Linked DNA regions of Homo sapiens: all the other regions are linked to region 1. The links come from fine-mapping of genetic effects on gene expression. A gene starts in region 1. Each other region holds a variant in brackets. All regions are shown on one strand. Distances are between the middles of the regions.

Region 1 (7,924 bases):
ACATAAATAATTTTTTTTTAATGATAGAATCTCACTCTGTCACTCAGGCTGGAGTGCAGTGGTGCAATCTCAGCTTACTGCAACCTCCTCCTCCCAGGTTCAAGCGATTCTCATGCCTCAGCCTCCGGAATAGCTAGGATTACAGGCACGTGGTACCACTCCCGGCTAAGTTTTGTATTTTTTTTAGTGGAGACAGGGTTTCACCATGTTGGTCAGGCTGGTCTCAAACTCCTGACCCCAGGTGATCCACCCGCCTCGGCCTCCCAAAGTGCTGGGATTAGAGGTGTGAGCCACAGCGCCTGGCCATAAATAAAAATTTTTTAATTAAAAAAAGAAACCTGATTTTTTTAGCTCCATTGCCACCATCTCCCTCTGTCTTCAGAATTTAAGCACAATTGTCTGTTGTATGTGCCATATTATTTCACATACATGCTCTCTGTGTGATTTTCCTCCCCTGGTGGATGACCTGCTTCTGGCATTTTTTTGAGCTAAGGCTTGCTCAGTATCCTGTTTCCAGAGCAGCTAATGTACTGAAAATGTGAGTGGTGGTTATGTTATATGAGGAGGGCTGAGGTTAATAGGCCAAAGAAGGGGCTCCAGTGAGTTGTCAGACAAGAGGTCGAGGATGAAATTGGGAGCCTGTGCAGGGGATCAAGGGGTTCCTAAGCCAGAAACCCATGGGGGATGGGGCAATAGAAGGATGGCCTGGACATGCTGGCAGGTGGGGACTGCTGCCTATCTTGGCCTTCTTGTGTTCCTTGCTGTGTGATGCTTAAACGGGTAGGTGCTTCAAGGCGCTAAGCAGCCAGCCTGTCATGCACCACTTTCCCTTGTCTGCCTATGCATTTTTCAAGGTTCAGCTTTAGGGTTATTCCTTTTTTTTTTTTTTTTTTTTTTTTTGAGACGGACGCTTCCTCTGTTGCCCAGGCTGGAGTGCAATGGTGCAGTCTCAGCTCACTGCAACCTCCACCTCCCGGCTCAAGTGATTCTCCTGCCTCAGCCTCCCGAGTAGCTGTGATTACAGGGGACGTGCCACCGCGCCCAGCTAATTTTTGTATTTTTAGTAGAGATGGGGTTTCACCATGTTGGCCAGGCTGGTCTTGAACTCCTGACCTCAGGTGATCCACCCGCCTCGGCCTCCCAAAGTGTTGGGATTACAGGCATGAGCCACTGCGCCCAGCCAAGGGGTCATTCCTAAATCTTCCTCCCGTCTGCATTAATGTCCCTTCTCTGTGCTTCTCACACTATTTATGAGACTGTCAACTCCTTGAGGGAAGGCATTGTGGCTTTTCTTTTCTGTATTCAATACCACCAGAATCTAATAATCATTGCCTCTAAATACATTACAGGGAGGTAGAGGTTGGCTTACCATAAGAGAAATTTTTTACAGTATATTGTATATAAGCAGAGTATAGACTAGTGGCTAAGAATCTAGCCTTGGTGTCATACTGCCTTTGTTCAAATTTCAGCCTTCTGTGTTACCTTGAGCAGTTTAATCTGTCTGTGCCTCATAAAATGGAGATAATATTACCTATGTCATTAGGTTGTTGTGCGAATTAAATGAAATAACACATGAAAAATACTTGGCTCCATTCCTGGTATCTTGTAAGCACTTAGCAATGTTAGAAATTACTACTTTTCTCCTAGTTATTATGATCATTTACTAGCACTGTATCACAACGAGGTGGGTTGTTTTGGGAAGCAATGAGTCACCTTTTATTGAAAGTATTCAAGCAGCAGCAAATCCAGCAGAGATGCTGTAGAAGCAGTTCCTGAGTTAAAAAGATTAGATGACTTCTAAGAATGCTTCTAATCATAGAAGAGGGAAGCTCTTTCTCTGATTCTAGGAAAGTGTGATCATTAGTGTTACTTCTAGCAAAACTGAGGATTGTTAGAACAGGGGGAAAAGGCACTGGAATTGGCCACATGCATATATTACAAAAAACAAAATATTTTCTTTGTGAGCAGTTGTTTTACTTATGTTGTAACCCACATGGCAAATCAGGCCCTTACATGGAAATTCATCTCTTCTCAAAAGGACTAGCTTGGCCCTGCCAAAATGGAACAGACAAAACTTTAAAGACTGTTCTAGCCCTACTGAAATGTCTTTTCCTTTTGAAAGCAGTCTATTAGTGATGCAAATGCAAAGTTATTTGGACAGACGATAATCTCAGCAAACAAAACACTGAAGTCATTAGAACTTTCTTGTGCAGCTTTCAGTCCTGAGAATTTGGCTTTCTGGCACTAAAAAGGCAGAGGCCGGGTGCAGTGGCTCATGCCTGTAATCCCACCACTTCAGGAGGCCGAGGCAGGCGGATCATCTGAGGTCGGGAGTTCAAGAGCAGCCTGACCAACAAGGAGAAATCCCATCTCTACTAAAAATACAAAAATTAGCTGGGTGTGGTGTTGCATGCCTGTGATCCCAGCTACTTGGGAGGCTGAGGCAGGAGAATCGCTAAGAACCCGGGAGGCAGAGGTTTCAGTGAGCTGAGATTGCACCCTTGCACTCAAGCCTGGACAACTAGAGCGAAACTCCTTCTCAAAAAAAAAAAAAAAAAAAAGGCAGAGGAAAAGAGCAGACCTGGCTTCCATTTGGGATAATTTGTCAGGTCTGCTTATCTGAATCCTTGGCTAATTATTCTTGCGCTTGGCCTAAACATGCCAAACAATTCTCCAAATGTGGACAAACTGAAGGAAGGCCTGTAATCTGGGTCCTGGGCAAGTACCTTAAACAAGCAAAAGCAAGACCTTTGGCTATGGAATAACATTTATAGTCAGGAGTTTCTCAAGATACCAGAGCCTGAAGGTAGATCCATCGAGAAGATATTCAATGATATGCACTCCTAAGGCAATAATTTAAGTGATACTTTCATATTACTGATGCTTTAAAATTTAATAATTAAAAATTACACAACTGAAAGGCTACTTATATAGGTGAAGAGATAACCATTTTCAAACATCAATTTAGTCAACAGATACTCAAAGTAAACAATTTGAGAATTTAGTACATATGCAATTTTCCTATGAGCAAAAGGATTCAAAAGATTTTTTGAAAAAGTATGAAGCAGTTAACTCTAAGTAGTTTGCTCTACTATTAATTTATTATACTTATCCTTAACAGGTTTGATGAGACCTAGTTTCTCAGGAGCCACGAGGTATTAGGGAATATTAGTGGTTAGAAGGTGTGGTGCCTAAGGGGATTAGGAAAGCATTTCTGAAGCAAAACTCCAACGTGGTATTGCCAAAGTGGCCATCACCTAATTGATTAAAGCTCCTGCAAATGTCTATTGGGAAGTTCAATGAGAACAGAAAAATAACCTTCCATTACCCTCAAGCTTTCTTGGGCAAGTATTAACAATCGGAGCTGGAGTCCACATAGCTCAGATGTAAGACGCGCAATCTGGGTCTTAAGCAGGGTGGGGTTTTTGGGTAGGTAAGGTCACAGCTAAAGAGCTTCCGGATCGTCACGTGTTTATATTTCAGGTGCGGTAATAGATCTAGTCCACTCTCCACCCCTTCTTTACAGGGTTGCTTGACAGCCTGCGCAGTCCCCGCCCGTCTTTGATAATCCAACCCTCTTCGAAGAGGGAGGTCAATCACTGCTTTAGTTCTGCGCTCTGCCTGCCTCCCACGCGGGATGGTGGGCAGCTGTTCCGCGTGTTTTCCTCCCGGAGCTTTCACGCTCTGCCCACTGCACACACCTCCCTCGCGGCCCTCCTGGCCTGCCCTCCTTTGCACCCTGGCAGGCCAACTCCAAGGGTCCGAGTGTCGGTGACAGGGGCAAGCAAGCACAGCTCACTTTTCCTGGGGGTTTTCCTCACGGTGTGTTTAGTGACCCCTCCCCGCAATCCCAGAAAGGCTGCAGCACTCCATGGTATCCTACATGTAGCTGCTTCTAAAATAATAAAGGCTGGGACATTGGCTGTCTTGGATATTACCACTATGCTACCTGCTTGGAACTGGGACCAGATAGACCAAGGTCCAACTTTGTCGTTAGGGGAATCAGAAACGAAAAGAAGCCACTTTCTGCTAGTCCTAACCCCGGTCCCTGGGCCAGGCAAACCTTTTCAAGCGTCCGGCGGCAGCGGCCGGGCGCGGGTCCGCAGAAAAGCCGAGGCGTTTCGGGTCCCAAGCTGTTCCGCCGCCGGCCCCGGCCTGGCAGGCGCGCGGAGCCGGAACGCGCAAGGGGTCGGGTGCGCGCCAGGCCTGGCGCGCTCCCTCCGGGATCGCGGCTGCGCAGTCGGGCGGGAGTCGGGAAAAGGGGAGGAGGTTGGAGGAGCCGGAGTAAGGGGAGGGGGAGGAGCGGCGAAAGCGGAAGCCATGTTGGAGTTTCACCCCGAGCGAGGGGCTGCGAGGGTTCTCCTCTCCTTGTGGGTGTGACCAGGTTCGGCGCGGCGGCGGGCCGCGGGGGGCGGGGACGATTGGCCGCTTGTCGTCGTCCGCAGCGGCGTGAGGGGAGCGGCGGCGGCGGCGGCGGCCGCAGCGTGGAGCCGGGTGATTGTGACCGCCGGGGGAGCCGGGAGCCGGCCGCGGCGCCCTCTCTCCGTGTGGCCCCCTGAGCGGCCCCCCTCCCCTGCCCGGGAGGGAGGCGGGGGGCACCTGGGGCCCGCCATGAACCCCGGCTTCGATTTGTCCCGCCGGAACCCGCAGGAGGACTTCGAGCTGATTCAGCGCATCGGCAGCGGCACCTACGGCGACGTCTACAAGGTAAAGGCAGGGGCCGCGCGCCGCCGAGGCCGTGGGATCCCGACCCGCAGCCAAGCCTGGGCGTCCGAGCCCTTGCCGCCTGTCCTCGGGAGACGCTGGCGCCAGGGAGCAGTCGGGGAGGAGGAGCTGCGGACGCCAAGGGCTCTGCTGCCTTGGTGAACAAAGGGCCGAATGTTTAACCCCGAGACCTCCCCAGCCCTTACCTGAGCCCCCCCGGTGGACATGATTTTTGCCACCTCCCTTCTTGCGCGCATTTCCAGGGAAGGGCAGAACGAGAGCAGGCCACACTGCTCATCCATAGTGCAGAGAAGGTCTGGGCGTTTGTTGCGTTGGCAGGGTCAGCGCGACGAACCGGACAGCAGGGGTCTGGTGTTGTCAAACCTGCCTGCTTCACGCCAACCTGGGGTCGTCCGCTCTAGGTTGGGAGCTGCTGCCCACCAGGCCTCGGTGGTAGTTATTATACTATGCTGAGCGACCTCCATCTTCCATCGACAGCTCTCAGCCTTTAGCGCCTTATTCATCCCCCTGTCAGTTTCTTTTAATTTTCCAGAGTAATGACTTTTTTTTTTTTTTGGAAAGAGCAACTTTGTTTTCTCTAAGTCGAATTGGACTGCGATGCCATTTAAACTTGTTTTTTAAAAAGTGACTTGAATACTTAGGGAAGGTACTGGTTTGACAAGGTTAGAATTCAAAGTCCAGTAGCGGTACAGCATTCCTGTTGTAGAGGGACCACTTCTAAATGTGGGAAGATAAATCACTCTTCCCTGGCCAACTCAACTCTTGGCCTCACAGTTACTGCCAAGAAGAGAGGAGGTTGTTGCCAAATGTGGCAGCAGTCTTGATTTAGTTGTGTATCTTCTTACTGGTAACTGAAGTTGAACTCCTCCAGTTTCACATAACACCTGAGGATGCACAAAGAAACTTAATTTTGCATTGGAAAGTTCAGTCTTAACTTTATTTTGCCCATGTTTAAGCAGGTTTTTACTCTTCAGTGTAATGCCTGTGGTAACTTACATATTTAATACAGTGCAGCCAGTGTTCTGCTTTAGTCTGATTTTCTGGATGATCTACTTTTCACCATCGTGGATCTCATCACTTTTCCTACTATGCAATATAGATATATTGAGCCCACCTACAATGTATGAGATACTTGGCAAGTAAGCACTTTGGGTTGTAGCAGTAAACGATAGACTTGGTTCCAAATCTTCCTAAGTGTTTCTATTTTTTTGGACAAGGACAGTATTAAATAGCCATTTAAATAATTATTGCCGTTTAATTTTGTGATGCAGAAAAGAGTATTAGGATCAGGGTTATGAGAGCATGTAATAGGAGGACCTGATCCTGTTTAGGGTATCAGACGCTCATCGCCTTTCAGCTGAGATCTCAGAGATGATTAGGCGTTGCTTAGGGTACTGGGGAGAGGGGATTACGCCAGATAGGGGAGCATGATATGTGAAGGCTCTGAGGCCCGATGTGAAAGAAGGCCTGTATAGCCTGAGCAGCCAGAGCGGGAGGGTGGCCCTAGATCTTGCAGGCCTCTTAGTTCTCATTAGGAGATCGGACTTGTTTAGGACAATGGGGAACTATTGCAGGCTTTTAAGCAGAGGAGTGACATTAGATTTAGGTTTTTAAAAGAGCTCCCTACTACAGCATGAAGAGTGGAATGGAGCAGTTGGGAGGCCACTGTGATAGTCTAGGTAAGAATAATGGTGTTAAGGAATATGGTGATGACTGTGAAAGTAGAAGTGGATGGATGCAAGTCACTTATGACTGGTTGGGGGAGTTCGCTTATATTGCGATGAAAAGTTAACTAAAACTCGATGAATGTATACGTTTTAGGTGGCAGGGTATACAGTGAATTTTTTTACAGGACTAATTGGCTGTGTACTTGCTATATTAAAAAGAACAGTTAGTAGTTAAGCCACATGATTAAAAAGCAAAAAAAAATTAGGGCCTGTAATTTCCTAAGTGTAATAGAGGTATACTAAGTTGGTTAATCTTGTCATTCGTTTAAAATAATGATAATACTAGCTGATGTTTATGGAATGCTTGTTACTTGCCAGGCACTATAAGATTTTTCTAATTAATCCTAACAGCAACCCTGTGAGATAGGTGCTATTGTTAACTCCATTTTGCAGTTGAATAAACTGAGGCACAAGGAGATTAACTTGCCAAAGTTGGTAGGTGGCAAAGCCAAAATTTGAACCAATTAGGGACTGTATTCTTAACCAATTGGCAGTGCTGCCTCTCTAAAGATAGGAGATGGGCAGATAATGTATTACATTTCCAGTGGAGAAACTGAGGCACACATTTAGTTTAGCATTTGAGTTGTAGCCACACTCTGAGTCAGTGTAGATCTTTAAGTAGTAGTTGGAATACCTAATTCCTGCTGTGCCACAAGGTCTCACTGTTTATGTAGTCTGCCAAGTGGATATCAGATAATAGATGCTTGGTCCCTGCCTGCCAGACTCTTCCAATACCAGTGACCAAAGCAGAGAAACTTCATGTGGTTCTTGACATCATGTACCCCTGCCTGCCAAACTCTTGTTTATGTTTTTGTCTATAATCAAGTTTATTCTATAAAGTTACATTTTTTTGTTATTTGTTTTGCTGTTTTAGTTTTTTCTTATTTATACAAATTAATTGTGCTAGAGAGAAGTACATTTTGTTTTCAAAAGCCAATATATATAATTTGTTCCTTAATTTGTCAGCATTTACGTGCTAAAAATGGAATGATTGGATTAAATAAATAAGAGATCCGATTATAGTCATTCTTGGAAGGTTGGTGGAGATTTTTATTTTGAAAATGTTTTCCTACTCAATGTAATAACATATTTATTGTACTTAAGGTGGCGTGGTTTAGTTCCAAAGCACTGAACAAGGATGTGGACAATCTGGGATTTATTAGCTATGTGACCTTGTGAAATCAACCTCTCAGAGCTGTTTTGTTGTGGAGATATTATTACCATCATATGCCCTTCTTCTTTTGGTATTGACTAAATGACTCAAATTTTACTTAGTAAGTAAGTTATCTTTATTTTTTTCAGGCCAATGCATATATACATTTTATCTGCACTGTCTAAAGTCGTATCTTGTAAGTGTCGTGTAACTCTGCAGGCTTTATCTGTCATGAAGTGCCTGCAGCTTGGGTTACCTAGGGACCTAGGAGCTGGCAACTGAAGCTCTTTAGTTGGGCCTCAGGAGGCCCATGGAGTGC
Region 2 (7,924 bases), 58 kb before region 1:
TTGCAAAATTCCTTACCATTTAACAATCAGCTTGCACAAGCCAGCAGCAGCCATCTCCAGCCCCTCCTTGTAGAGGTGCTTTAAATCACGAGAGAAATTGCTCTAAGACTGTATTGAGCATAATTTAATTTCTCCTTGATAATTCTGAAGGGCACTTCATGGTATTGTAGTTCCTGAGCGTCAACATGGGGAACATTAATTACTGTTGCACTGCACACATGCGGAGTTGCTAATCAATGGCATGGGGGCAGATAGTTTCTAAGGCTGATGGGATGAGAAGAACCAGGCAGAACCAGAATGTCCTATAGATTGTCAGTTGCATGCTTTTATTCCTTGCAGAACTCTGGAAGGAATCCAGTAGAGGCCATCACGCCCTTAGGTAAATTTATTATGGTATAAATTGTAATCGCAGTGACAGAAATCTTAATCATTTTTTTCCAATGGCATAAGGCTTTACAACTTTTTTTAAAATATTTTTTTATTATACTTTAAGTTTTAGGGTACATGTGCACAACGTGCAGGTTTGTTACATATGCATACATGTGCCATGTTGGTGTGCTGCCCCCATTAACTCGTCATTTACATTAGGTATATCTCCTAATGCTATCCCTCCCCCCTCCCCCCACCCCACAACAGGCCCCGGTGTGTGATGTTTCCCTTCCTGTGCCCAAGTGTTCTCATTGTTCAATTCCCACCTATGAGTGAGAACACACGGTGTTTGGTTGTTTGTCCTTGCGATAGTTTGCTGAGAATGATGGTTTCCAACTTCATCCGTGTCCCTATAAACGACATTAACTCATCCTTTTTTATGGCTGCATAGTATTCCATGGTGTATATGTGCCACATTTTCTTAATCCAGTCTATCATTGATGGACATTTGGGTTGGTTCCAAGTCTTTGCTATTGTGAGTAGTGCTGCAATAAACATGAGTGTGCATGTGTCTTTATAGCAGCATGATTTATAGTCATTTGGGTATATACCCAGTAATGGGATGGCTGGGTCAAATGGAATTTCTAGTTCTAGATCCCTGAGGAATCGCCACACTGTCTTCCACAATGGTCGAACTAGTTTACAGTCCCACCAACAGTGTAAAAGTGTTCCTATTTCTCCACATCCTCTCCAGCACCTATTGTTTCCTGACTTATTAATGATCGCCATTCTAACTGGTGTGAGATGGTATCTCATTGTGGTTTTGATTTGCATTTCTCTGATGGCCAGTGATGATGAGCATTTTTTCATGTGTCTGTTGGCTCCATAAATGCCTTCTTCTGAGACGTGTCTGTTCATATCCTTCGGCCACTTGTTGATGGGGTTGTTTGTTTCTTGTAAATTTGTTTGAGTTCTTTGGGCTTTACAACTTTCAAAGTGAATTGGATTTTTACCGTAAGCAAAATAGAACAGAGGGTTTATCTCAACCAGAAACAAATGGAGTGTGTAAAATTCAGTCTCTCTCTTCAGCCCCATGCTACTGACTTCTGAATAGCATTCCAGCTGTATTTATCTGGGGCTTGGGAAATTTTCTTGGTTCCTGGGAAGAAAGTTAACTAAAACATATGACATCTCTGGCAGCAGTCACAATTTCACACAAAAAGTTTCTTGCAATAACTTCACATATTGCTTCCCCTGGTGGAATCACTATCTCTAGGGAAAGCTTGGGTCTAAAATGACAACTATATTGAATGAAAGTGAGAGCTGAATGCTAGATCCACCAGCTTGTATCTCTCTAGGAGAAATCTTCATCTTAAAATCACTTTTTATGGATGATGTTATGACAGAGACAAGTCCTAGATTTTTTTCTTTTCCTGCTTTTAAAACATAAAAATTGTAAAACTTCTCAAGTAGCCAGACGTGGTGACGCATCTGTAGTCCCAGTTACTCAAGAGGCTGAGGCAGGAGGTTTGAGCTCAGAGGTTCAAATCCAGCTTGGGCAACATAGTGAGACCCCCCCAACACACACCAATCTCAAAACAAACAAAAAGCCTTCTCAAGTAAAAAAATAAGCAAATACTGTTACTACTCCAGCTACTCAACAGTGCTCCCTGTAGATGAAATACTACAGAGTGTTTGCTATTTACAGGAAATTGGAGGTGGGGTGGTTACTGGAAAGTGGGTTGGCAGAGATTGGTGGTTATGTGATTTAATCCTGAAATAGACTGGTTATGAGAATCAATGTCTTCAAATTTCAAATACTGTCTTGCTTTTGCTTTTGTATATATATACACACATATATACATATAAATATATATACACACACACACACAAAAGCAAAAGCAAAACAGTTATTAGCTATCCTTCCTAGAGATAGCTAGCAAGGACAGCTAATCAACTCTTTCAACATTTCAAGATTAAAGGATGAGGATACCACCTGGGTTTTAATACGGAGATGGCTCAAGCCCTTTCCACTGCCATGTAAAAGATTTTTAGATCACATGTGTTGATCATTACAGTGATGAGATGGTATTAAAATGCTTGACAAATTGGTCTCCATGGCAGTGCTTGTAGTCCCAGCTACTCAGAGAGGCTGAGGCAGGAGGATAAAGTGAGCCCAGGAGTTCGAGTCCAGCCTGGGCAGCAAAGCGAGCTCCTGTCTCTAAAACAAAATACAGACTTGACAAACACCTACTGAAGGCAATATGATCATTACTTACAGAAAGGACAGGATCAGAGCTAGGAGAGTGAAGGACTAGATTTATGAAGCTTCAGTCCCTTCTTTACGGGCACTGAAGAGAAACAGTTCAAGTCCTCCAGTTGTCCCATAGGCTTTGTCATATAAGAATGGATAATTTGCTACAAGCTCGAAATGGCAAAACCAATTACCTAATGTTGCTACTGTACTGACTAATCATCTTACTCATGAAACTATCTACACCTTGCAGAGAACTTTAAGAAAACCACTGGGCATGGTGGGTCGTGCCTATAATCTCAGAATTTTGGAAGACCAAGGTGGGGGCATCCCTTGAAGCCAGGAGTTTGAGACCAGCCTAGGCAACACAGCAAGATACTGTCTCTACATAAAACAAAAAATAAGAAAAGTTAGCCAGGCATGGTGGCTATGCCTGTAGTCCTAGCTACTTGGGAGGCTGAGGCAGGAGGATCCTTGCAGTGAGCACTCCAGCCTGGGTGATGGAGCGAGACCCTGTCTCAAGAAAGAAAGAAAGAAGGGAAGAAAGGAAGAAAGGAAGGAAGGAAGGAAGAAAGGAAGAAAGGAAGGAAGGAAGAAGGAAGGAAGGAAGAAAAAGAAAGAAAGAAAGAAAGAAAGAAAGAAAGAAAGAAAGAAAGAAAGAAAGAAAGAAAAACCTTGCAGTATACATTTTCATAAGCCCAAAAGTTACTTCCTTCCATTTATTGCAAGGCTATAAGAACCCAAATGTCTGCCTGTTATGATTTTAACCAGCACTTTTCTACAAGTGAGTATGTTCAAGAACCCCTAAAAAGACTGTAATAATCAGATATCAAGCACCTATATGAGGTAGCAGGAGGAAGAAAGAGGCAGTACAAACAACAATCCACACATAATCCAGTAATGCAAGCTCTGAAATTCCAACACTTCATTTCAACTGCTTCCCCCAAAATTCCATACCATGTTCTTGCTTTTGGATAAAGTCAGTGACAAGAAACGAGATGGTCATACAGCAGCAGCAAAAATATAATCAGGAAATATAATGACTTTGTAATATCCCTGTGCGAAAGAAATAAACCTGAGTAGTGAGAGGAACATGGGTCTTGGATTAGGATATAGAACAATGTTTAAACCCTGGTTGGCCAGGTATAAGCTATGTAATAACCTTGGGCAATTCACCTAATTCCTCTGAGTCTTAATTTCCTCATTTCTTATATGTGGTAATTGTGCCTAATTGAGAAGATGCACAATAGAAATTCAATAGTAGCTCTAATTACCATGCAACAACCTTCCTGGTCCACTGTGTGGGTTTCTTTCAGGCTGTGAGTAAGTGGACATGGATTTCTGTAGCTAGTCTCTGCCAGAGGATATGAGTATTTCAAGAAGCAGGAAGGGCTGGAGGTGTGTGAAGGCTCCCCCGCTCCTGCACTTCATTTGTACACTCTCATCATCACTGGAGGAGTCTCCTGGCTGCAGTTGAGCCTTCGATGAGATGATTTGCATCACTCACATTCCAAGCTGGGTGGGGGAAGCCCAGACATTCTCGCTCTGCCCCTCAACCAGCTTGGTGCCAGATTTCCTCTCGCTTCACCCCCCCAGGAGGTCATCTAGGGAGCAGGCATCACACAGTAGCAACAGGCCTTGCGGATGATGACATCATAGGCTATTTTGCCCACTCTGTTTATCTCGCACTGAGAGGCAGGAGAGCACAGTAAGGAGCACAGGTTTTTTGGTTTGGTTTTGTGGGTTTTGTGGGGGTTTTTTGTTTTTTGTTTTTTTTTTTTTTTTTGAGATAGACTATCACTCTGTCACCCAGGCTGGAGTGCAGTGGCACGATCTCAGCTCACTGCAACCTCCACCTCCGGGATTCAGGTGATTCTCGTGCCTCAGCCTCCCAAGTAGCTGGGATTACAGGAGCACACCACCATGACTGGCTAATATTTGCATTTTTAATAGAAACAGGGTTTTGCCATATTGGCCAGGCTGGTCTCAAACTCCTGACCTCAAGTGATCCTCCTGCCTTGGCCTTGCAAAGTGCTGTGATTACAGGCGTGAGCCACTGCACCTGGCAAAGAGCACAGGTTTTGAAGTCAAACAGACCTATCTTCAAAGTATGTTTCTGTCCTGTGCCACATCTAAACCTTAATTCCCTAAGCTGTAAAAGATGATCAAATAGGCCAGGCACGGTGGCTCACACCTGTAATCCCAGCACTGTGGGAGGCCGAGGCGGGC[A/G]GATCACCTGAGGTCAGGAGTTCCAGACCAGCCTGGCCAACATGATGAAACCCCATCTCTATTAAAAATAAGAAAATTAGCCGGGCATGGTGACATATGCCTATAATCCCAGTTACTCCAGAGGTTGAGGCAGGAGAATCACTTGAACCCAAGAAGCGGAGGTTGCAGTGAGCCGAGATCATGCCACTGCACTTCAGCCTGGGTGACAAGACTGTCTGAAAAAAAAAAGGAAAATCAGGATTTCTAAGAGATATCTCTACTCTTACGTTCATTGCAGCATTATTCATGATAGCCAAGATATGAAAACAACCTAAATGTCCATCAACAGATGAATGGATGAAGAAAATATGGTATACATATACAACAGAATATTATGCAGCCTTCAAAACAAAAGGAAATCCTGTCATTTACAACATGAATGAACCTGAAGAACATTAAGCTAAGTAAACTAAGCGAGACACAGAAAAACAAATACTGTGTTGATTTCACTTATATGTAAAAACTAAAGTAGTCAAACTTAGAACAGCAGAGAGTGGAATGTTGGTTGCCATGAGCTGGAGGGATAGAGGAATGGGGAGATATTGGAAAAGGGTTACAGAGTTTCAGTTATCCAAATGAATGAATTCTGGAGATGTATTCTACAACGATGTGACTACAATTAGCAACACTATATTATATACTTGAAATTTGCTAAGAGGGTGGATCTTAAGTGTTCTCACCACCAAAAAATAAAAAAGAAGGGAAAGAAAGGAAGGAAGAAAGAGAGAGAGAACAAAAGAAAATGGTAACTATGTGAGGTGATGGATATGTATATGATATATATGCATATTATATATATATGATTTGATATGGATATATGCATATATATGCATAATTGAAATATGTACATATTTAAAGTGTACGACATGATTTGATATGCATATATATGCATATATATCCATATATATGCATGGATATGGATATGGATATATATGCATGGATATATATGCATATCAAATCATCATGTTGTACACTTTAAATATGTACAATTTTCAATTGTCAATTATATCTCAATATGGGAAAAAGTCTTGTCATGAAGGAGATGCTTAATAAATAGTAGTTAATGTTATTATCTTTGATTGATTTGTCTTTGAATAAATTTCTGTGGCCTAAATGAGGAAGCATATTCAAGGCATATATCCAAATATTTGTAAGAGTAGAGGAATGTTCTTAATCCAAATTATATGCACCAGTATTGCTCACTTGAGTGGAAGGAAATTATAGAATGGAGTATTAACTTCCTAATGACTAGACAAAATTAGTTGAGTAAATTACCCAATCAGTTCAGGAGAAGAAAATAAAAACCTGATTCAAAGGGTTTTTTTCCCCTCTGTGGGTTCATTTTATTGCTGCAACCCTCTAATTTGTTTTAGTTATAAAGACATGGCCATTTCATTTTCAGTTTCACCCAGGAACTAGAACTATATTTTGAAATAGGGACAACTGGATTTAGAAAATCACTTTTGTACAACTAGAACTCATTTACAGCTAGTTATTCAAATATCCAGTGACAGCATAATAAAAATTTAGGGCCTTCTTTTAATTAAACACTCCAGTTTACAATTCCCTGGAAGTAGTAACACATATTTGGAAACTGCTCTCTTTCGTGTTTTTAAAATAGCATCTAACATTAAGACAGTAATTTATTAAGAAATAACTTGCTGATCTGAAAGTGTTGATGTGATTTCAAAATGTCTTTAGAATGCATCCAACTCGATGAGACTTATATGCATGGATTTGGAGAACAAGGAGCTTATCATAGGACTTTCATAGCCCTCTCAAAATGGCAAATGAAGATAAACTGCAGAAATAGGGACTGCATGTTGCAATCAAAAGGGAACCTGCCCACAGACTGAAACAAACTTGGAAAACAAATGAACGGAAGATTAAACAGTGAAGTCTAAGTACTATCACTTCTTCCCCTATGATTAAAGCCTGACAGGCACCATGAGTCAAACTGTAAATATATACTAGTTATCATAGACCTCACTGGGTTTATGCGTCAGTAAACCACAGCTGCCTCTAATTTACCATTGAAACATGTTTTAGGGAAATGAAACTAGCCACCACCTCCTTTCATGCATGTGATATACTATTCATAACCAAGCCCTAATGACAGAAGAGAGCATTCTTAAAATAGTCTAATGGCTTTTTTGTATTCAACAATACAATCCCCCTATATTTTTTATACCTAACTCACCACATATTCAAGAATTTTCCATCATGTGCTTAACTTTAAATTTTTAAATGGTTTTCTTCACCTGAGCTGGCAGCTTTACTATTGCACTAGTCCAAACATATAGATGGGAGCGTCCTTAAATATGCAGCAAGACACACGTGATATAAATAGGAGGAATCATAGTATAGGACCACCTAATAATAATAAAGCCAATGTTTACTTAGTGCTTACTATTTACCTAACATTGTGCTAAGCACTTTTGAAGAATTATTTTGTTTAATCAGCAATTCCAACAAGACAAAATTCCAGTGTCCCAGATGATAAGACTAGCGAAACTTAAAAATCCTAATGTTAAAAAATTAAACCGCTAAGTGAAAATTAGTTTTTCATGGGTGATTTCTTGGCAATTTATAAAATTTAAGTTTTCCTAAAATTAACTGTAAACTGATACATATTAATCATACATAGCAAATGTCTACAGTCAAATTTTAAGCTATTTCTCTGCTTTATTAGCCATTTATATCAGCTTTTATACGAAACTTCCTTTTCATAGGTGCAATTGAAGACAAAGGATCAAAGCTTTTTCACTGGGCACGGTGGCTCATGCCTGTAATCCCAGCACTTTGGGAGGCCGAGGCGGGCAGATCACGAGGTCAGGAGATCGAGGCCATCCTGGCTAACATGGTGAAACCCTGTCTCTACTAAAAATACAAAAAATTAGCCAGGCGTGGTGGTGCACACCTGTAGTCCCAGCCACTCAGGAGGCTGAGGCAGGAGAATGGCGTGAACCCAGGAGGCAGAGGTTGCAGTAAGCCAAGATCACTGAACTCCAGCCTGGAGGACAGAGCATGAGA
Region 3 (7,924 bases), 34 kb before region 1:
TTCTGATGAAGAGCAGTTTGGTGATTAATACATTCATTTATTCTTTTTTTTTTTTTTCAGATGGAGTCTCGCTGTGTTGCCCAGGCTGGGGTGCAATGGCGCAATCTTGGCTCACTGCAACCTCCACTTCTTGGGTGCAAGTGATTCTCCTGCCTCAGCTTCCTGAGTAGCTGGGATTATAGACGCGCACCACCATGCCCAGCTAATTTTTGTATTTTTAGTAGAGATGGAGTTTCACCAGCTTTGGCCAAGCTGGTCTCAAACACCTGACCTTGTGATCCACCCATCTTGGCCTCCCAAAGTGCTGGGATTACAGGCATGAGCCACCACGCCTGGCCCATTTATTTAATTCTTAGAATGAAAAAAAATATATTGGCAACAAGTATCCAACTGAAGAAGCTGAAAAGAATGTTAGTGAAAATCCAAATAAAGAGGAAGAAACTAACATGCAGGCACAGAGATTAATAAAACACACACACAGATACACACACACACACACACACACACACACACACACACACACCAGAAGTGAAAAATGAAACAAAAAGCTAGTATAGTCGGCTCTCCATCTGTATCTGCAGTTTCCACATCCACAGATTCAACCAATTGTAGACAGAAAATATTCTGAAAAATAAAAAATAACAATACAACAATAAATATGCAAATAAAAACAATATAGCATAACAACTATTTACATAGCATTTATATCATATTAGGTATTTTATGTAACCTAGAGAAAATTTGAAGCATACAGGAGAATTGTGCAGGCTATATGCAAATAGTATGGCATTTTACATCAAGGACTTGAGCATCCTTGGATTTTGGTATGCAAGTGTGTCCTGGAACCAATCCCCCACAAATACCAAGGGACCACTGTACTTTGAAAAAACTAATTAAATTGACACACTTCTATTAAGGCTGATCAAAAAGACAAGAGAAGGCACAAAAATATTAGGAAAGAAAAGGTAATATAAACAATTCAAGTAAAATTTATAAATACAACTTTTTTTTTTTTTTTTTTTGAGACAGGGTCTCACTCTGTCTTCTAGGTTAGAGTGCAGTGCCATCATCTAGGCTCACTGCAGCCTCAACCTTCCAGGCTCAGGCGATCCTCCTCAGCTCAGCTTCCTGAGTAGCTGGGACTACAGGTATGTGCCAGCACATCCGGCTAATTTTTGTATTTTTTGTAGAGAGGAGGTTTTGCCATGTTGCCCAAGCTGGTCTCAAACTCCTGGGCTCAAGCAATCTACCCACCTCAGCCTCCCAAAGTTCTGGGTTTTACAGGCATGAGCCACCGTGCCTGGCTACAAATACAAGCTTTTTAATTCTTCAGAAAATATTGCTGGGCACGGTGGCTCACACCTGTAATCTCACCACTTTGGGAGGCCGAAGCAGGTAAATCACACGGTCAGGAGTTTGAGACCAGCCAGTTCGAGATCAGCCTGGCCAACATGGTGAAACCTCGTATCTACTAAAAATACAAAAATTAGATGGTTGTGGTGGCAAGCATCTGTAATCCAAGCTACTCAGGAGACTGAGACAGGAGAATTGCTTGAATCTGGGAGGTGGATGTTGCAGTGAGCCGAGATCGCGCCACTGCACTCCAGCCTGGGCGACAGAGCAAGACTCCATCTCGGAAAAAAAGAAAGAAAGAAAGAAAGAAAATGTTATTTTTCAACCTCATGCTAATAAACTTGTATACATGGATTTAGTAGAAATGTTTTTAAACAAATACAAATTATCAAAATAAACTCAAGAAGAAATAGGGAGCCTGAATAGATTTAAAAAAATCAGTAATAGATCAAACAACAATCAATCAAAATTATTACTTATCAATAAATATCAGGCCCAAGTGTTTTTGTTTTTTTTTTCAGATGGAGTTTTACTCTTGTTGCCCAGGCTGGAGTGCAATGGCCCGATCTCGGTTCACTGCAACCTCCACCTGCCAGGTTCAAGCGATTCTCCTGCCTCAGCCTCCCAAGTAGCTGGGATTACAGGCATGCACCACCACTCCTGGCTAATTTTGTATTTTTCGTAGAGACGGGGTTTCTCCATGTTGGTCAGGCTGGTCTCGAACTCCCGACCTCGGGTGATCTGCCTGCGTTGGCCTCCCAAAGTGCTGGGATTATAGGCGTGAGCCACCGAGCCTGGCCTCAAATGTTTTTTTACAAATGAGTTTTATCAAGCTTTCAATTAAGAAATAGTAGCTATCATACAGGAACTACTTTGTAAAATTGGAAAGAAAGGAGGTACTATCCAATTCACTCTATGATTCTAGGGTAGCCCTAACACCCAAAACAAATGGCAGTAAAAATATTACATACCAAACTCACTTATAAACTGAATTGAAAAGATCCTATAGGCTGCTCTGTCTATGGAGTAACCATTCCATTTTATTTTATTTTTTATTTTTATTTTTATTTTTTTGAGACGCAGTCTCACTCTGTCACCAGGCTGGAGTGCAGTGGTGTGATCTCGGCTCACTGCAACCTGTGACTCCCTGGTTCAAGTGATTCTTCTGCCTCAGCCTCCCGAGTAGCTGGGATTACAGGCATGTGCCACCACACCCAGCTAATTTTTGCATTTTTAGTAGAGACAGAGTTTCACAATGTTGGCCAGGATGGTCTCGATCTCCTGACCTCGTGATCCGCCTGCTTCGGCCTCCCAAAGTGTTGGGAAGTGTTGGGATTACAGGTGTGAGCCACCACGCCCGGCTGGAGTAGCCATCCTTTTATTCCTTACTTTCTTAACAAACTGCTTTCACTTAAAAAAAAAAAAAAA[G/AG]AAAGAAAGAAAGAAAGAAAAAAATAAAAGACCCTATATCTCTAATTAGAAACCTTAGGAAAAGATAAATTCTAAATAAAATCCTAGTCAATTAAATTCAAGAATGTATTTTAAAAAATAAAAATACCTCATAACCAAATAGAATTTACCCCAAGAATATAAGAATGTTTTGACATCAGAAAATATCTATATATTTGTTCATAATATTGCCTACATACAGAAAAACACACAAAAAAAACCCTCTATGGAATTTTTTAAAAAAGACATTCTACAAAAGTAAACATTCATTCATGAGTTAGTAAATTTTGTATATATTTTATTAGGATAAATTGTCCTCTGACCATTTCTTCATTCATTCATTCTTTGTTTCCTTCCTCCCATCTACCATTAAAAGCAAGGCTATAATAAGTATTTTCCTACAGTCTCTTTATGCACACATAAAATAACCTCTCTAGAGTGTATACTTAGAAGGAGCATTGCCTAGGGGAAGGATCTGCTCATCCTCAAGTATTTATAAATTGTAAAGGTTTGTACAAATTTACACTGCTACCAGCAGTGTATGGGAGCTTCCCCATATCAATGCCAACATTTTCAATACTTTTTACCCGAAATGAATGGGGATAAAATTTATTTATGAATTCTACCAATATTTATTGAGAACTTAGTATGTGTCAAGAACTGGAAAAGAGTAGTAGGTAATGAGGTGAAAAAGGTCATGGTGTGCAGAGGATGCATGTGGCACCGTTGTCATAACTTTGGCTTGAAGTGACATGAAAAGCTATTGGAGGATTTGATTCAGAGAAATGGCATGATTTGACTGTTTTGTAAGAATCACCCTGGCTGTTGTGTTGAGAACAGACTATAAGGAAGCGATGAAGGAAGCAGGGAGACTAGTTAAGAGGCTATTGCAGTAATTCAGACAAACAGATGATGGGGGGTTGGACCACCATAAAAATACTTCATTTAAAAATTTTGTATTTCCCAGAATTGCAGTGAGACCATGTTTATGACCATGGGTAGAAAAGGCCTCCTGAAACAATACAAAAAATACCAAAGTCATAAAGAAGAGGATTAATAAATTTTACTATATCAAAACTTTACATCTGTTCAACAAAATGAGATTCAAATCCAAAGGAGAGACTGGGTGAAAGTATTGTAATGTATGTAGCAAAGGACTTGCCTTTATATGTCCCCAGAAAAAAGACAAAATTGAAAAATGGGCAAAGAACATAAATAAGCAATTCACAAAGAAGGAACATGAATGGCAAACGAGCATCTGAAAAGATGCTCAGTCTTACTGGTTTTGGGGGGAAACAAAAAGAAGAGGATGCTATTTTTTATACATTGGATTGACAATAAATAAGAAAGACTGATGTGTTGGGAAGCATCTGGAAAAACAGACATTCTCTTACCGTATTCCTGGGAATATAAACTGGCCAACCTTTTTGGAGTACACATTGGCAGCAATCCTTCACACTTTGGATGCGCCTATCATTTGACCCAGCAATCTCACACCTTGGTATCCACTGTAGAGAGATACTTGCATATGTGCAAAAAGGAAGCAGGTACAAGGTTGTTTCACTATAGTACTATTTATAGTGGTAAAAACTGATAGCATAGCAACCTAAATGATCATCGAAAGACTGACACTTAGTGATGCATCTGACTTATGTGAGAGCATGCAGCAGTTGAAAAAAACTAAAATGTACTGACACAGAAAAATCTCTGAGAGATATGGCTAAACTTAAAAAAAAAAAAAAAAGCAAAGTTGAAGAACAATCCACTGTGTGATACCATTTCAGTCAAAACAAAACAAAGCAAAATTCCCTCACTGGCTCTCTCTCTGTCTGTGTATAGATATAGATAGATAGATAGATACATAGATAGATAGATAGATAGATAGATAGATAGATAGATAGATACATATACACACATATGTAGATGCAGATGTATGTACACAGATAGATCAATAAAGATATATAAATAACTAAAAAGATGAAAAGACACACTCCAACTTGAAATCAGTGTTTGCTCTAAGGAAGAACCTGAAATAGGGGTTGAAGGAGTAGGAGGAAGAAAAAGTTTTTATTCATCTTTCTTATGTGATTTTCTTAAAGATTCCTTGAAGCTTCACTATGTGTAGGAAAAGACCTTCCCCTTTCTAAGTTACTGTTCAGTGTCAGGCATCTGGGCCCCTGCACTGCATTCCAGACTAGCTGCATTTCTGGTGAAGCCAGTGATTCATCTGAGCATGCCCTGGGCCAGCCCCAGGTGCAGCTATTCTGTGCTTTATTCTAGGCTCAATATCCACCCAGACTGACCTTGGGCAAATCAGTTTCAGTTCCTTTCTCTTATCTAGCTCAGTTGTGGGGCAGTTACCTCACAATGGGATGAGAACGAGGATGCAAGCAAAGTATTCTATAAGCTGCCTCCTCAATCTTCTCAGTGCCTCTGGTAACCAGCCAAGCCAGTCTTGGCCGTGTGGAGGTGGACACTTCAGGGGAAATGCTTGCTGACTTTGTGCACTATTCGGGCAAAAGGGCAAGCTGGGGATACCATTGCTGGAAAATTTTTAGTGCAACCAAGTGTTCCCTACCCATCTGGCCAGCTAGATACGGTTTTTCTTGCACCCTTTTTCAGTAAATGTAGAGCAGATAAGACAGCCTTTTACCCCACAGATTAAGCCCTGGAGAGATCATCCATAAATTACAAATATAGATTGATTTGGGGTGGGGGTGGGGAGGGAAGGCAGGAGAGGACCTAAATGCCATAAACAAACTCCTAAGGAGAATGCCATGAATAAAAACTTCCTGTACCAGTCAGCAGCATCCTAATGAGAGGGAGTTCACATGTGTACAACAGCTGTGTAAATTATAAAGCTTAAAAGGTAGAACTAACCGCATCATACTACTTCCAAAACACTCGATTCCTTCCTTCTTTCTTCTTTTCTACTCCAAAATAACCTAAAACAATCCTATAACAATTACAAACTGGGGGAAAGGCAAACCATTCTGGGAAAGAAAAAAATAGCAGCTGCTCTAGATATCATTTTCAGATTTTGGCTAGGATTGTTTAAGTTATTTTTTATTTTCTTTTATTCTTGGCTGGCTTGACAGTCCTTCAGGATTTCAGCTGATTCCAAACACAGCTCAGTAAAGATCATTCCAGAGAAGTTTCATATTCCTAAGATTCCTTAAATTTCTCTTTCTTTTAACTTAGGAAATTAGGTTGAAAGAAGATGAAAAACAGCCCAGATTGCACCATTTCCTATGCAAGTTTCTTGCAAAGCAAGCTGTGTCCCCCTTTCCAACAAGAACAGAGAGACATAGTTCTGACTGGGAGGTGGGCGGTGGGTCCTCTGGAGCAGCAGCAGGACTATTTGTCTTTTGAAAATGCCCCAGCAGGCCCAAAGTCTGTCTGAAAACTTTTTGTAAAGGAGGAGGAGAAAAAAAAAATGAAATTCTAGTGAGCTAACCATCTAAAAAAGCCAGTGACTGCACTGTGGACTTCTTTCATGCAAGAAATATTTATTTTGCACCTAGGTGTGCCAGGCTCTGTTCTATATACTGAAGAGGGAGCAATAAAGACAACTAAGTGTCTGATTCCCTCAGAGTTTCTGTGCCTGGGGACTGTTACAGGAAAGCGGTCCTGATCCAGACCCCAAGAGAGGGTTCTTGGATCTTGCGCAAGAGAGAATTCAGGGCAAGTCCACAGTGCAGAGCAAAAGCAAATTTATTAAGAAAGTAGAGGAATAAAAGAATGGCTACTCCATGGACAGAGCAGCCCTGAGGGCCGCTGGTTGCCCATTTTTATGATATGCTAAACAAGGGGCGTATTATGCTAAACAAGGGATGAATTATTCATGCCTCCCCTTTTTAGACCATACAAGGTAACTTCCAGACATTGCCATGGCATTTGTAAACTGTCATGACGCTAGTGGGAGTGTAGTAGTAAGGACAACCAGAGGTCACTCTTGACGCCATTTTGGTTTTGGTGAGTTTTAGCCGGCTTCTTTACTGCAACTGTTTTATCAGAAAGGTCTTTATGACCTGTATCTTGTGCCGACCTTCTGTCTTATCCTGTGACTTAGAATGCCTTAACCGTCTGGGAATGCAGCCCAGTAGGTCTCAGCCTCATTTTACCCAGCTCCTATTCAAGATGGAGTTGCTCTGGTTCACACACCTCTCACAAAACCATGAAGACAATTCAAGGAAGCCCTTTCCCCTGTCTGCTCCCAGCTGGGTTTCAAGTCTCTTCCTTCTGTTGGTCCTTCTCTTACAACCCTGGTTTATTATACCCTTTACCCTTCCCTTATGTAATCACATGTCCCTTTGTAAACATCAAAGGAAAATAAGCAGGCCCAGGGAGCTGATGAAAATGAGAATGATGACTCATAGAAGGATGTTTTTCTATTTTTCACTTATACAAGCCTCTTCTGAAAAGAGCCTAGATGCCTTTTCTTTCTGAAACTAGTTTGTCTCCTCTATTGTAGTGAGTCCTCACTTTGGCTCTGATTATCAAAATCTACTCTCAACCATTCACTGCTACGTGCCTCCAGCTCACCTGGGCCCTCAGAGTAGTCAGGCAATCATTTCTTATTTCCCTAAGCAGCTTTTCTCCCCCCTTTCACCCTTCATTTAGGCTATTTTTAAAAATCTTCATACTCCCTAAAGTTCCATGCTCATATGCCACCCCAACGATCACATTCACCCACTATAGACAGTGTCCGTACTTCATAGACAAAATAGAAGCCATTGGAAAACTCCATTTCCAATCATGCCACCTAGAAGGTTCTCTGCATCTGCACGTATTTTTTTCCATCCTGCACAAAGAAAGGGTGTCCTCCCATTTAAGGTGAGTGCCTGCACCCAAGTTTTGGATACACCCCCCTTTAGTCTTCTCAGGAAGGGTCCTCCATCCGTTATTCCCTTCTTTACCTCGCCATTCATTTCTTCCCTCTGCTGGGTCCTTTCCTTCAGCCTAACACAAAACCCCTGGCCTCTCTTCCTACACACTTCTTACTAAAAACTGCCCAGAAACTCATCCAAGAATTAATGAACAAAAAAGGAACCAGAAAAGGATCTATATTAAAGATACTATTAGTTGACCATTGGATTTTTTTCATCCCCACGACTGTCTCCTT
Region 4 (7,924 bases), 37 kb after region 1:
CACTGTGGCTGAGCTGGTACCTAAGGTGAAAGACCAAGTCCCCTTTACTCTTCTCTCTGCTTTTCTCAAGCAGGAGTCTTTCACTGTAGCTACCACAACTGGGCATGCGCTGGTTTTCACTTGAAGCCAGCACATGTCAGAGTTTCACCCAGGACTCACAGCATACTACCTGGGTTTTGCTGCTGGTTATTCAGGGCCCAAGGGCTCTTTAGTCAGCAGATACTGGATCCTGCCTGAACTGGGTTCTTCCCTTCAAGGCAGCTGGTTCCTTTCTGGCCCAGGGTGTGTCTAGAATATTATCTGGGAGCTAGGGCCTGGAATGGGTGCTTCACGATCCTAACTGGTCTTATATCCTAGTGTGGCTGAGCTGGTATCCAAGATGCAGGTTAGAGTCCTCTTCACTCTTCCTTCTCTCCTCAAGCAGAAGACAGGGATCTTTTTTAGAGTCACTAGCTGGGGTTAGGGGAGGGGTGGCACAAGCACTCCCTTAGCTGCCCTGGCTGGTGTCATAATAGCTTGCATGCCCCCCAAGTCCACTGGCTCCAAGCCCCACTCAGCCCTACGACTTTGCCTAAGAGTTGCAGTCCTTGTGGCCTAGACTGCCTTTCAGGTTTATTGAGGGCTGCAGAGTACTTCATCCCATGGTGGGGAGGCTTGCCAGAACTCAAGTTCTGACTGTTGGGACAGGCACTTCCCTTCTGGCTAGGGCTGATCTAAATACTCCCTCCATGGTCGGGTGTCAGCTGAGTTCAATGCAAAGTCTCACAATCACTGTGCTTTCCATCCCTCAAGCACACACATTCTCTGCGCCACACTGCCACTGTGGGTGGATGGGGGACGTTGGCAATTCAAGATTGCCTTTCCTTCAGTGCCTCTTTCAGTGATATCTTCAGTGCCTCTTTCAGACATCTTCAGTGCCTCTTTCAGTGATATGAAGTTAAAACCAGGTACTTTGAGTGCACACCTGAGTTTTGGTTCTTATAAAGGTGCTTTTTTGTGTGTAGATAGTTGCTAAATTTGGTGTTCCTGCTGGGTGTCAGTGGGTGGAGTCCTGTTCGGCCCTCTTGCTCTGCCCCTATCTTGAGAAGTATTCTTTTCATTTTTCTGAAAGAGTTTCTGTAAAATATTTTCTTCCTTCTGTGTTTGGTGGAATTTATCAGCAAAGCCATCTGGGTTTGGAGGCTTTATTATTGGGCATTTTAAACTATAGATTGAGTTTCTTTTAGAAATATAGGGCTATTTAGTTTATTTCTTTAATGAGATTTGGTAGTTTGTGTCTTTCAAAGAATGTATTCATTTCATCCAAGTTGAAATTTAATGGCATAAAATTATTTATAATATTTTCTCATTATCCTTTTAATATGTGTACAATCTGTAGTGATGTCATGTCTCTACTTCCCAACATTGGTAAATTTGTGTCTTCTCCCTTTTTTTTTTCTTTCTTTTTTCTTTTTGGCCTGTCTTTTTTTCTGATTGGTTTGGCTAGAAGTTTATCTTCTTAGAGGTAACAGAGCCTTAATTTTATTGATTTTTCTCAAAGACCCAATTTTTGGTTTAATGGATTTTTCTGTATTGTTTTTATTTTCTATTTAATTGAGGTACACTCTGATCTTATTTTCTTTCTTCTGCTTACTTGAGGTTCATTGGCCATTTGCTTTACTTTAGTTTCTTAAGGAGGAAGCTGAAGTCACTGATTTCCTGTTTCCTTTCTTTTTTTCCTTTTACGAGCATTTGTTGCTGTGTTTCTTTTAGCTGTGTATCACAAATTTTGATATATTTCTCTTTATAAGCAATTTGATTATGATATGTCTTAATGTAGCTTTCTGCTCATTTCTCTTGCTGGGAGTTCATGAAGGTTCTTGGAGGTGTAGGTTTATGGTTTTCTTCAAAACTGGAAAAAATTTGGCAATTAATCAAAAAAATTTTGCTCTTTACCTGTTTCTTAGTCTACTTGAAGTTATCCCACAACTAACTGATGCTCTCTGTTCATTTTTTCCAGACAGAGAAAAGACTGTAGTTTCTATTACCGTTTTCTTCAAGTTCACTAATCTTTTCTGGTGTCTGATCTGCTCTTATTCTATCCATTGTAGTTTAATCTCAGTTATTTTAGTTTTCATGTATTAATATGATTTGGGTTTTTTTCGTAGTCCGTGTTTCTATTTAACTGGCTTAGTCTTCACTTCTTGCACATATGTAATGTAGTTATCATAGCTAGTTTAATGTTTCTACTAATTCTGTTTTTGAATCTGTTTTATTGATTTTTCTTCTTACCTTATAGGTTGTATTTTCTTACTTTTTTACATGATTATTAATTTCTATTGTATTTCAGACATTGTGAATTCTACTTTGTGCCCTGGATATTTTTGTATTCCTGTTAGTATTCTAGGGCTTTTTTCTGTGGTGCAGTGAAATTACTTCAGAAACAGATTCTTGTATTTATTTGTTTTTTCTGAGACAGGGTCACACTCCTGTCATCCAGGCCGGAGTGCAGTATTGCCATCTTGGCTCACTGTAGCCTCAACCTCTCCTGCTCAAGCGAAATGCCCACCTAAGCTCCCCAAGCAGCTGAGACTACAGGCACGGGCCACCATGCCTGGCTTTTTTTTTGTATTTTCTTGTAGAGATGGGTTTCGCCGTGTCACCCAGGCTGGTCTCAAACTCCTCAGCTCAAGCGCTCCACTTGCCTGGGCCTCCCAAAGTGCTAGGATTACAGGCATGAACCACAGCGCCTGGCCTTGCAGGTATTATTTCGAAGCTCAGTTAGGTGGGAACAGAGCAGCTGGTAGCCTACAGCTAATTTTCCCCAATACTAAGACAGTATTCTTCTGAGTATTCTACCTGGTGTCTCTTAAATTATGAAGTTTTCCAGTCTGGCCGATGAGAGCATGAACTATTCCCAACCCTTAGAAATCTTTGGTAATTGTTCTCTCTCTTCCTTTCTGGTGACTCTGCTCTAGGCCTTGTGTGTTTCCTCACAAGGATATGGGGATTGGTATTGAGCTGAAATTTTGAGATGAAGATGGGACACCCCCCTCCCCTTCCTGTCTGTATAGTTGTCTCTGTTTTGGTACTCTGTCCTACGAATTCTAGCTTTCTTCATTTTCCTGTATTCTTAGCTTCATCATCTCAACTTAGGGTGACCATCAGGCTCCATCTGGGTTCCCTTGCCCTGCACTGAGGCCTGGAAACTGTCTCTAGAATATAAGCCGGGACAATTGTAAAACTCTGTAGGATTTTATTTTTCTTTTTTAAGGAATCACTGTAGCACACTACAGTGATTCTTGTATTTATTTGTTTTTTCTGAGACAGGGTCACACTCCTGTCTCAGAACTAACCGATATTTCATGTCTAAAGACTAAGTGTTATATGTTTTGTTCATTTTTAAAGCTTTTCTTTTAGGTGAAAGGGTATAGCTGCTTTCTGCTACTGTATTTTGGCCATATACCTTTCTTTTGGAAGCTGAAAATTACTGTATTACTCATTAGTTAAAGAGGAAATTACAGTGAAAATTATACAATATCTATTTTGATGAAAAACAATTAAAGCTATAGATATAAATAAAGCAGGACTTCCAGTCATAATTTATAATAATAAATTCACTTATTAAAAAATAAAAAATAAAATGATTAGATATGAACACCAAGGAATTAAAAAAAGAGCAGAGTAAACTCATAGGCACTGGAAATGTAAATAATAAGGAGGAACAGGAACTAAATGAAGGGGAAGAAAGAGAGGGGGGAACAATAAAACCTAAGCTCAACATTTGACAAGATATGTAAAAAAGAAAAACCTGGTAAGAACACCCAAGAAATAAAAGAGAAGGCATAAATATTATTTGTTAATTATTGTTGCAAATATAAAGAGCATACCTACTAATTTAGCAGTACTTTAAAATATTATGAGCAACTTATGCTAATAAATGTGAAAGCTTCGATGCAAGGATGGTAGAGTCAAGACTGGAGACTGTAGTATTCCAGAGAAGAGATTATGGTGGCCTGAACTCTAGGGCACTAGTAATAGAAACAGAGAAGTTAAAAACATACAACAGACATTTATAATTCTGTGAATGGAGGGATGGGGAGGGTTAAGGTGTTGGGTTATAGCGTTCTCCCTTGGGCAGTTGCGAGATGTTGGGTGGTATCACTACACCTAAAGTATAGCAGGGTTTTTGGGGGGATTAATTTGAGGTACATGGATGTCGGTAGCATTGTCTAGTTGGTTATATGGGTCTGAGCTTTGAGCTTACTGAAGTC[T/A]GGGGAAATTGTCTTATAAACTTACCAACTTGTTTTTCTTTTTGTGAGCATGCCTTTAAATGTTTCCAGAAATATAAAATATCCTCTTTTTAAACCACATTAAACCCTCCCCCATATAAATATTATGTACCTGGCTAGATCTTAGTTAGATATGAGAACAAAGATCCTACTTACAGCAGTCTCTTGTAATAAACACTAAAATGTATGCTTGTAACAGGAGCCCTTAACTTTTTGGCATAGTTTCTGTGTAAGAACTCAGATTTCTCTGAGTGATATGGCTGTGACTTAGATTCTGATTCTCTAAAAGTCATTGCCAGGCTTGTCTGACCCTGCTGCTAGGTAGCTAGGCAGTCTTCACTAAAATATCGCCTCAAATCCTTGCATTTAACTACTTAAGTTCCTAAAATACTTGAAAATCAGCTGTACTCATTTATGTGACTGAGGTGCTACATGTAGACTTTTGTCTTCCTCTTGGCTTGAACAAAACTCCAGGTCACCTCAAAGATGGAAATGAGATGGTTCCCATGTGTTTTTATTTTGTTAAAGAGATGTGATGTATATTGGAAATGGCCTTTCCTCTGAGGCTTTCATTCTTTGACTGGATTGAAGGCTGCTGCGCACTACCTTAAGCCTACCAGTTTTAGCATAATCCTAGCCTGACCTGCACTGAACTGGCTGTTATTAAAAACCTTGTCTGTGTCATCTGAAGTATTCACTGCCTGTCACAAGTGGTACTCTTCTTGCAGGCTTCTTAGTGACATATAAATTACAACTATAGCTTGAACAAGGTAAACAATGTGGCTTTTTGTTACATAGTACAACATACGTTTTCAAAGCATAGTACGTTCTTTAGTTTTAATTGATAGATTGGGAATTTCGTGTGAGCAGGTTGATAAGTGTGATTGCATTTCTGATGTTTATGTTTCACAGAATTCTTTTTTTTTTTTTTTTTTTTAACGAGACAGAGTCTTGCTTTGTCTCAGGCTGGAGTGCAATGGCATGATCTCAGCTCACTGCAGCTTCCACCTCCTGGGTTCAAGCGATTCTCCTGCCTCAGCCTCCCGAGTAGCTGGAGCTATAGGTGTGCACCACCACACCTGGCTAATTTTCATATTTTTTGGTAGTGACAGGGTTTCGCCATGTTGGCCAGGCTGGTCTTGAACTCTTGACCTCAAGTGATCCACCCACCTCAGCCTCCCAAAGTGCTGGGATTATAGGCATGAGCCAATGCCTGGCCAATTATTATCATCATCATTATTATTATTATTATTATTATTATTATTATTTTAATTATTCCTGAAACCATCAAAGGAAAGGCTTACACCATGGCTTAGTAAATTTTTGGGGCCAAATATTAACCATGCCACCAATTTCTTATCTTTTTATTTCAAATTTAATTTATAATTTTAATAAAGAATGCGTTTATTTACGTTTCAAAATGCAAAGTGCTATTTTAAAAAGTATCCCCTGAGAAGTCTTGTTTCCCACCCATCCCCATCTGTCCCTTCTCCTTAGTTCATTTTATGTATTACTAACTGTATTTTTATTAATTTTTGTTAATTTCTGTTTATTCCTTTAGACTTTATGCAAAAGGCTAATTCACACTAATACTTTGCACCCTGGTTTCTTTATTTTTATTCCATGGAGCTCTCTCGTTATATCAGTCAGTATATAAAGACCTTCCTTATCTTTTTTTTTCTTTTTTTACTATATAGTATTCGTTTGTTGGTATATGCTGTAGTTAATTCAGCCAGTCCTTTTGCACTTGAATTTGTTCAGTCTTTTGCTATTAACAGGCAATTTCATACTGATTAAGCTTGTACATGTGTATTTCTTATGTATGTAGGTTTCGTGATGGTTTCGTTTCCTAGAAGGGTGTTTGCTAGGTGAAAGGGTACATGCGTCTGTAATTTTGATTGATATTATTGGATTCCCTGTATATATATCTTGCATTTTGCATTTCAGCAGCAATATATGAGGGTCCTTGGAATGCCCCCCCTTTCCCTACAGCTTGACAAGTGGTTGGACTTAAATCAGATTTTGCCAATCTGATAAGAAACACTATCTCACTGTATATTTTTTGTTTGCATTTCTGTTTTCAGCTTATCATATATTCAAGGGCCATTTGTATTTCTTTTCTTTTTCACATACTTGTCCATTTTTTCATTGGATTATCTCCTCTGTTTCTAAGAATTCTTTATATGGGTGTATTTCCGGACTTTGTATTTTGTCCCACTGGTCTGTCTATTCATTTGCCACTCGTATACTTTTAGTTCTTGAGGCCATATAAAGTTATATTGTTAGAGCTGTTTTCTCATTGCTCTTCATTTTCAGAGTTTTCCTGGCAATTACTGCTTGTTTATTTTTCAATAAGATCTTTAGAATCAGCCTTTCTAGTTCCTGGAGGAAAAAAATTGATACTTTTATTGGGTTTGTATGAATTTTAATATCTTAAGAAGAGTTGATACCTTTATGATGTTTAGCCTCTCTAAGAATATGATTATAACTTTCTCTTCATTCAATTCTACTTTCATTTCTTTAAAGGTTTTTGAAGTTTTCTTTAAGTTTGCACATTTGTGATTAAGTGAAAATATACAAATATTTAGTTGCTATTGGAAATGAAGTCTTTATTTTTGCTGTTGTTTGTATTATAATATGTTGTATATATGAAGATTATTGATCTTTGTATATTCTTTTCATAGGTTACTATCTTACTGAATTCTCTTATGTTTGTAGTCACTAATTCTTAATATTGTTTTAAAGCACATTTTATGGAGTTGGTGAGTACTATATAGGATTTTTTTTTAGTACCAAAGTCTTGGTTGAGAGACATTACACTATCCATTTTTACTGGTTTAGATATGTAGCATGATGAACCTCAGCAAGTTTAAAAAGAATCATTTCTTTATTTTGACTTGAAATTTCAAGTTTTTAAATTGATGAAAAGTTGTCATTTATTGTGGCAGGGGTGATGTGAAATCCAGCCACTTATTGGTATGTGTTACAACTTAGCTAAGTCCAGTAATAGTCAGTACATACTACTAAATGATTCAAAAGCAAATGGTCTTTTAGATCAAGTAATAGATCTCTTAAATTGAGATGTATTTACCTTAGATAGTAAGAATGACTCTTTGGTCTCTTATAAGAGGTGAAGAGAGATGCTGTTTCTGGGCTAGTATTTTTGCTAAAATGGTTTTATGAAAAACTTTCATAAGTTAAAAATTTGGGGCTGGGCGCGGTGGCTCACGTCTGTAATCCCAGCACTTTGGGAGGCCGAGGCGGGCGGATCACAAGGTCAGGAGATCGAGACCATCCTGATTAACAGGGTGAAACCCCGTCTGTACTAAAAATACGAAAAATTAGCCGGGCGTAGTGGCGGGCGCCTGTAGTCCCAGCTACTTGGGAGGCTGAGGCAGGAGAATGGCGTGAACCCAGGAGGCGGAGCTTGCAATGAGCCAAGCCATTGCACTCCAGCCTGGGCGACAAAGTGAGACTCTGCTTAAAAAAAAAAAAAAAAAAAATTGGGGGCTTGAAGTTAAAGCACATTGTCTTGAGTAAAAGATATTGGTAGAAGTTCAGAAATGTAAACTGAATTGTCTTTTATCTTATTTTACCTAAGTGGACTATGGAATATTAAGCTATTGGTATACAAATACTTGTAGGCCGGGTGC

Alleles and levels. Positions count from the first base shown, and alleles are read on the strand shown. Sizes are in standard deviations (SD) of each study's normalised expression. Not every link is listed here.
For the expression in lymphoblastoid cells of the gene that starts at base 4,314 in region 1, A is the low allele of the variant in region 2 and G is the other (small effect, 0.34 SD a copy in GEUVADIS).
For the expression in lymphoblastoid cells of the gene that starts at base 4,314 in region 1, allele G in region 3 goes with a lower level than allele AG (moderate effect, 0.60 SD a copy in TwinsUK).

What was found.
Region 2: its variant is fine-mapped to the expression of MAP4K3 in lymphoblastoid cells (GEUVADIS, PIP 0.95).
Region 3: its variant is fine-mapped to the expression of MAP4K3 in lymphoblastoid cells (TwinsUK, PIP 0.90).
Region 4: its variant is fine-mapped to the expression of MAP4K3 in whole blood (TOPMed, PIP 0.99).

The regions. Positions count from the first base shown.
Region 1 is chr2:39,433,675-39,441,598 of GRCh38, reverse strand. It overlaps MAP4K3 (mitogen-activated protein kinase kinase kinase kinase 3), which reads left to right and starts at 4,314. Exons shown (of 34, transcript NM_003618.4): 1 at 4,314-4,707. The coding sequence starts at 4,612. MAP4K3-DT (MAP4K3 divergent transcript) reads right to left here and starts at 4,183. Exons shown (of 6, transcript NR_037875.1): 1 at 4,064-4,183. RefSeq lists silencers at 4,061-4,280, 4,351-4,710 and an enhancer at 5,041-5,120.
Region 2 is chr2:39,491,253-39,499,176 of GRCh38, reverse strand. All of the region lies in intron 3 of MAP4K3-DT (MAP4K3 divergent transcript), which reads right to left. Among named protein-coding and RNA genes, the nearest start is that of MAP4K3-DT, 58 kb to the right of the region's middle. The variant A/G (reference allele first, on the strand shown) is at 4,853.
Region 3 is chr2:39,467,227-39,475,150 of GRCh38, reverse strand. The region is part of intron 3 of MAP4K3-DT (MAP4K3 divergent transcript); the gene reads right to left. Among named protein-coding and RNA genes, the nearest start is that of MAP4K3-DT, 34 kb to the right of the region's middle. RefSeq lists a silencer at 4,242-4,291 and an enhancer at 5,144-5,644. The variant G/AG (reference allele first, on the strand shown) is at 2,782.
Region 4 is chr2:39,396,329-39,404,252 of GRCh38, reverse strand. The region is part of intron 1 of MAP4K3 (mitogen-activated protein kinase kinase kinase kinase 3); the gene reads left to right. Among named protein-coding and RNA genes, the nearest start is that of MAP4K3, 37 kb to the left of the region's middle. The variant T/A (reference allele first, on the strand shown) is at 4,254.